2 linked regions of the Homo sapiens genome follow. The protein of the gene in region 2 purifies or fractionates together with the protein of the main gene of each other region. This does not show direct contact. Each region holds a gene or a part of one and is shown on either strand. Other genes may lie near its edges.

What was found. The genes of interacting proteins can lie anywhere in the genome.
Region 1: the proteins of DEFB110 (region 2) and CAMKMT purify together in Homo sapiens (affinity purification with mass spectrometry; one large-scale study listed by BioGRID and IntAct). This does not show direct contact.

Annotation. Positions count from the first base shown.
Region 1 is NC_000002.12:44,371,830-44,375,485, reverse strand, and holds part of CAMKMT (calmodulin-lysine N-methyltransferase), read right to left. Parts: intron 2,771-3,656; coding exon 2,598-2,770; intron 1-2,597.
Region 2 is NC_000006.12:50,019,886-50,023,641, forward strand, and holds the start of DEFB110 (beta-defensin 110 isoform a precursor), read right to left. Parts: upstream 2,110-3,756; 5' UTR 2,051-2,109; coding exon 1,996-2,050; intron 1-1,995.

The DNA of each region.
Region 1 (3,656 bases), on a different chromosome or scaffold from region 2:
ACACTGAATAGTTAACTTTCCTTATTTAATTATTTTTATTATTTAACTTTTATCTATTTCAGCTCCTTAAGCATAGTATTGTATATTTATATTTATTTCTGTTTTTTTATATATATATAGAAGGTGCTATTAAATATTTATTGGTTTGAATTTAACACTATTCATCCCTTTTTTTTCAATCATCATTACTGCTGATTAAACAAACTTAAAAAATATAGAGGAAGATGAGAGTACTCCACTTCATTGCAAAACTACTTCTAAACCACTGCTTTGGGCTATTCCAAGTAATATTAAAAAACAAAACAAAAAAAAAACAGAAACCCTGGCCAGGCATGGTGGCTCAAGCCTGTAATCCCTAAAGGGGTCTCACTCTATCGCCCAAACTGGAGTGCAGTGGCATGATTATGGCTCACTGCAGCCTTGAAATCCTGGGCTGTAAGGATTCTCCTGCCTCAGCCTCCTGAGTGCCTGGGACTACAAGCACATACCACCACCCCTGGCTAATTTTTAAAATTTTTTGTAGAGACAGGGTTTCCCTATGTTGCCAAGGCTAGTCTTGAACTCCTGGCCTCAAGTGATCGTCTTGCTTCGGCCTCCCAAAGTACTGTTATTTTTGCACTAATGTGGACAGATACTAACTAGTTTGAAAAAAAAAATCTTGGCAGCCAATGAAGCCAACACTTTAGCTCAGTCACGTGTCTTTTTTCCAACTCAATGTCATATTTGTATAGATATACATTTATTCTTTCATATATCACAAGAAGATATATCACAAAGAACAATGCTGTTGGAAAGGAGTCCCAGTTTACTCTATAGCTTGGGCTCTGGATAGTACTACATGAGGATCATCTCTACAAGTGGATAACCATGACTTGCTTTGAAAGATCTCAAGAAGAGACTATTTCACATTCTCACTGGCTAACCCTTACCAGGGCCTTGAAGATGTCAGGAAATTATTCTTGCTATAATTTATACTTATTGTCTCTTTTCACCAGTGGATGCAGAAGATAAGTTTTAGAACTTTATACCTAAAGACCCCTACTGGATCACTCTGTCCTTTCTTGTCTTTCATTTCCTTCTAAATGTTTAATCATTTCCATTCCTGCTTCACAAAGTTATTGTAAGGATCACTTGAAATGGAATACATCAAAACACCTAGCTCTGTACCTGACACAGAGTAAGCATATACCTTTCTTTCCTTTCTAACCAAGGACAAAACTGATTATCTCCATCAAAAGGCAAAGCAGTTGGGGTATCCTAATGAGAATCTCATAATTAATGTACAGGTACACCCCAAAATCTGTAAGTTTATATATTTTATTTGGCATTTTCTTTACTTTGATTTTTTTTTTTTTTTTTTTTTTTTTTGAGGCAGAGTCTTACTCTGTCATCCAGGCTAGAATGCAATGGCACAGCTCACAGCAGCCTCAACCTCCCGGGCTCAATCAATCTTTCCACCTCAGCCTCTGGAGTAGCTAAGACCATAGGCACATGCCACCATGCCCAATTAATTTTTGTATTTTTTGTAAAGGTGGGGTTTTGCCATGTTGCCCAGGCTGGTCTTGAACTCCTAGGGTCAAGTGATCCACCCACCTTGGCCTCCTGAAGTGCTAGGATTACAGGCATGAGCCACTGCGCCCAGCCGGCATTTTCAGTAAAATAGTATTATAAAACCAGATTCTAATTGTTCTTTCCTGCCCAACCTAGTCAATTTTTATCCAAATCCCAATTTTTAGCTATTATGTTTTAAAGCTTAGATATTCTAAACTAAAATAGCTCGAGAAACATATACTATAAAAAGATACCCTTTGTGAAAATTTTTTTCTTAAAATTATTCCTAGCCTCACCTAAACCTTATTCAGTCACATTTACACTTAAAATGTTTTTTGCTCTTCTTACAGTTACTGTAAATGTGCTCCTCCCTCCCTTTCAAAATGTGAAATACTGTCAGAAAAGGCAGATTTTATAAAATCAAACACCTACAGTAATATTGCAACATGCTAGAACATAACTGTGAGAGAAAATTAATTCAGTAAAATGGTATCTTGTTATTGCAGTCTGTAACTCTCTTGTCTCTTTTCTAATGATTTTTAAAGTCAGAACAGTCCATATGCTTCTTACAATATCAGTGTTTTCAGTTGAATTTTCTCCTTTAGTCTTAAGATTGATTCTATTCTGAAAGTAATAAAAAAATAAATAAATGGAAAAAATACCAAAGCTTGATTTTTCAGATTATTACTTGAAGGGTAGTTTGGAAAAATTCTGTTTTCACTTTCAGCCCCTTCTTTGCCTCAGAACAAACATGGCTTTTTGTCATAAACAAATGTTATGACAGAATGTTTAAATGAACCCTTTGATTTGCAACCACCTTATCTTCAAATGCCACTATATTTGTGAGAACTTGTTTCCTTTAGTCTGATAATACAGCAAGACCCAGTTAAAATAGCAGGATTTCCTAAAACAAGTTGTAAAACCTAAGTTCTGAAAAAGATTGCCCGTAAACTCAATAGAATAAATAATGATGATTCTTATTAGATTGTTTTTCTTATCCAAGAGAAATCTAGTGTTTACAAAATCTTAACTAGAATAATGGTTACCTTAAGGAGATACTGTATTCAGGACAGAAGATGCTTGTATATTGGACCCATGCACCAACCTCCTCTTCAGTTTCCCTTTCTTTGCCTTCTGTTACTGAAAACAGATTAAATGATTCAAATCTTCTTACAGATACATGTCGCAGGCAATCATCCAGGTGTTTTTGCTTCAGAACCTTTGAAATAAAGCCAAATATTGCAGTCATGTTATCTAAACATATAGTAAGTTTAGTGTTCAAAATGTTCAAAATTTAAGTGGTAAGGGGACTTTCCCTTCTAATAATGACAGATTAGATAATTCAGATATATCTCCTACTGAAGATAACTATAAAAGATGAACAAAATATTTTAAAGCATTACTTGAAGACATCAGAGAGCAAAGACAGTGAAGATTTACAAGTCTGATATCTTTTTTTTTTTTTTTTGAGACAGGATCTTACTTTGTCACGCAGCCTCACTGTCACCCAGCCTGTCACCCAGCTGGGTTCAGGCGATCCTCCTACCTCAGGCTCCCTAGCAGCTGGAACTAAAAGTATGCACCACCACGTCTGGTTAATTTTTTAAATTTTTTGTAGAGATGGGGTCTCCCTATATTACCCAGGCTGGATTCAAACTCCTGGGCTCAAGTGATCTTCAACCCTGGCCTCCCAAAGTGCTGGGATTACAGAAGTGAGCCACAGCACTTGGCTTGCAGTCTTATATCTTTAAAAGGAGAAAACCTACAAAGGTTACTCTGACTTTTGCAACCACTTTTCTCCTGGGGATATGTGTCAATTCTAAAAGAAAGAACCAAGAAGATAAGCTGCTTCTTTAACAACCTATGGAGCTAGGAGAGAAAAGTTGAATTTCAAAGCTTACCTAGGAATGGGGAGGTATATTGAGTATGCAAGGTATGTATGTTTTAGCATAATGAATAATTTTGCTGGTGTTGCTAAAAGCCAGGTTTTTAAGTGTGGGGCATATCAACCAATAATAATGCTTGGATTTTATTTGGATCCTCCTCCAAAATAATCAAATTATAAAGAAAAATTATGACAAAATGGGGAAAATTTGAAAACTGAT
Region 2 (3,756 bases):
AGTAATTTTAGTGGCACGCAGACACACCCATTTGCTAACACATTGTCTATAACTGCTTTTGCATTAAAATAATGCAGTTGAGATCATAGGGTTCATAAAACCTACAATATTGGTTGTCTCACTTATTTCTAGAAAAAGTGTGTTAACTCCTACTCTGGCTTTATATTTTCTTATCAATCATGAAAGAATGGGTGAGGGATTTGTAGCTGGGGTCACAAGAAGACATGTCCAGGAGAGCAAAACTGCAACTAAAATTTGCACATTATAAGAAACACAAAATTTGACACAATACAAAAATAACTTTGTAATAGTCAAAGCTGTAAGAAAAGATATGTTTTTTTTTTAGCTTAAAGATGGACTCTCACTAGAAGTTTCTTATTTAGAATTGAATATATTTAGGGGGTTTGAGGACATTGGTTTGATTGGTTATGTGATCTATTCCAAGTCAATTTTTTTAAGTTTATATTTTAAATTGTACCAAGTCAAAATTTTTTTATTTTATATTTTAAATTGTACCCTGGCCGATTCGTTTTCAGAAGTCATTTGTTTTGTAGCCTTTTTTTTTTGTATACACATCAAATTCTTGACCAAAGGACAGATTTAATATTTTCACATATGAAAACAAATAAATTATGCCACTGTTTCCTGCTATTAATTATTGCTTGGTCTTCTCAAAGGCCAGGCCTTTTGGCCTAGGCAGTCTGTCTGCAGTTCCAACAGCTGACACCTGATGGTGAGTAGTAATACCTGTTAGCTAATACATAGACTCAGAGCTACATTATCTATGTCATTGGTATAATGGCTATAAAACCAAGTCCTACTATTAATATTGGCTTTCTTCTCAATGTAACCAAAGCAATTCAGAGTATGAAGCAACTTAAAGAAACAAAAGCATAGAAGAGCATCTAGTTAATCTGCACAATTTAAATATTCACTTCTAAAGATCATTACTTATTCTACATTTTCTGAGGAGTTATTATTATCAAACCCATATGTGATTACCCGTGACAGACACCTGAATTATACTCACTTTTGGCAAAAGTTCTGTCATGTTTGGCACTGTTGTCCATGAATGCACCTTGGACTGACCCCACCCCTTCTCTTATTCATTCTTTGTCTTATTTCACCTTTCTAAAACATTATTGTCTTCTTTCTCCTCATTCTGACCTCTACATGTGTTCTCCAGTTTGTGTCCTTGGATTGCTAATCTCCTTTGCAAGCATTCATCTCCTCATTCAAATAGTATCAATTAAATATACTCCCTGTCAATTGGATGCCAAGCTCAAGGGCATGGTGTCTCACTCTAAGCAATATTGATCTTTTGAATAGGACAATTCTTTGCTCTAAGGGGCTGTTCCATGCATTGTAGGTTATTTAGCAGCATCCTGGGTTCTATCTACAACTGGTACTGTGCCAGTAGTACAAGTTGTGATGAGCTAAAAGGTCTCTAGACGTTGCCTGATGTTCCCTTGAGCACAAATTCACTCCTCTCTGAGAACCACTGGTCTAGTGATACTTCGATATTTCAATAATTATTATTTCTGCCTTCAAATACATTGTTCAAGTCCAATCTGTCTGAAGTCTCTGATCATTACTTTCAACAAAGTAAAATCTCTCTCCATTTCTGTCTCACATCACTTTTTGTTATGATATTATTTTAGATTCACAGAAGAGTTGCAAAGTTGGTGGAAGCCAGCTTCCACTTATGTTATATATTGCATAAACTTGGTAATGTTAATTAAGATTAACGAATTAATGTTGATGTAATAGTATTTACTAAGCTATTCAGATTTTGCCAGTTTTCATACTTGTTATTTTTGTCTGTTTTTCACTATTGTCTTTATTATCTGTTCTGGAGTCCAATCTAAAATACCACATTACATTTTTGTGAAATGATGTTTTAATCCCTATGTTATTATCATATTTTTTATCAAGAAACAACTTATGTCTTCTCAAATTTGTTAGTATAAATCCCCACAAATATTTGCATATTACCTGGTAAAATTGTGACCCAAAAGTGCAGAATAAAGAAAAAAAGTTGAATCTTCATGGTAGAGAGTTTCTTAAAAAAAGGGGGCAACAGACCTCCTTTTTCAAGTCAGTTGTTTTGAAATAAGGAAACAGAGATCCCTTTTATTTGTGGATTCTCCTGGGAAGTACTTTTAACCACTGAGGCTTATCAAGAGCAAGAACATTTGTATGCTTGGTTGAATAGTGCCACCCTCAAAGAACATGAACTCAAAAAGTATTATTAAATTTTTCTCATAAAAGTAAAACCTGCTGTGTAACCTTAACTAGACTTTCATGAAAACAACACAGTTTTTAAGATATTTTATTTATAGGGGATATGTGTTTGGATTGCTAAATGTTATAGTAATCATCTCCTCTATTCTATGTTATATGTAATATTAAGTATTCTAATGCCTTAGTATAAAATTGTTGAATGCCTGAATCATAAGATTTTAGAGAAAAAGTTTCCATTGAGATCAGTTTTGTTTTGCTGATAAAACAATGAGAACCAGGGAGATTAAATAACTTTATTTCAATTAATATAATATGCAATTATTTAAATAATCAGTAAATTCTGGATTCACTAAAAATGTGAGAAATATTCTATATGTCTTTTTTTTTTTTTTTTTTTTTTGAGATGGAGTCTGGCTCTGTCACCCAGGCTGGAGTGCAGTAGCACCATCTCAGCTCACTGCAACCTCTGCCTTCCAGGTTCAGGTGATTCTCCTGCCTCAGTCTCCTGAGTAGCTGGGATTACCGGTGCCTGCCACCACGCCTGACTAATTTTTGTATTTTTAAAAGAGATAGAGTTTCACCATGTTGGTCAGGCTGGTCTCAAACTCCTGACCTCATGATCCACCCGCCTCGGCTTCCCAAAGTGCTGGGATTACAGTCATGAGCCACCATGCCCGGCCAAGTCTTTGTATGATTCATAAATTTTCTATAGTCATCTGATTTCAAAATTTCAGGTTCAATGTTTTAATTCTGTTTATGGAACTGAAAATTTCATATCTGATCTAAATTGCATGCTTGCAAAAACTATTATTTTGGATATGTGAGAAAGAGCTGGAAGTTTTGCCCAGTACTCAGAAGCTGATGCTATAAAGAAAAACAATTGGCCAGGTGTGGTGGCTCACACCTGTAATTCCAGCACTTTGGGAGGCTGAGGCGGGTGGATCACCTGAGGTCAGGAGTTCTAGATCAGACTGGCCAACATGGTGAAACAACCCCGTCTCTACTAAAAATACAAAAATTAGCCGGCCATGGTGGCAGGCACCTGTAATCCCAGCTACTCAGGGGTCCAAGGCAGGAGAATCACTTGAACCTGGGAGGCAGAGGTTGCAATGAGCCAAGATTGTACCATTGCACTCCAGCCTGGGGTAAAAGAGTGAGACTTCCTCTCAAAAAAAAAAAAAAAAAAAAAAAAGAAAGAAAAAGAAATCAATTAATCAATTATTTCCTACCACATAGTTAATTTTTAAGACAGTGGTTCCTAAACTTTAGCTGCATCAGAATCCCTTAGAAAGCTTGCTAAAATCAGATTGCAGTGTCCCACCCCCGGCATTTCTGATTTAGTAGATCTGGAATAGGGACTAAAATTTGCTTTTCTAACAAGATCATTGAATGCTAATGCTGCTGAAAGGGACCACATATTAGTCTAGGAAACCTAACTCATTCATTCTATAATGTCTAGGAAAAATGTTTCACAGAGTCATAGAATCTGCAGCATACATTAATAAAGAATTA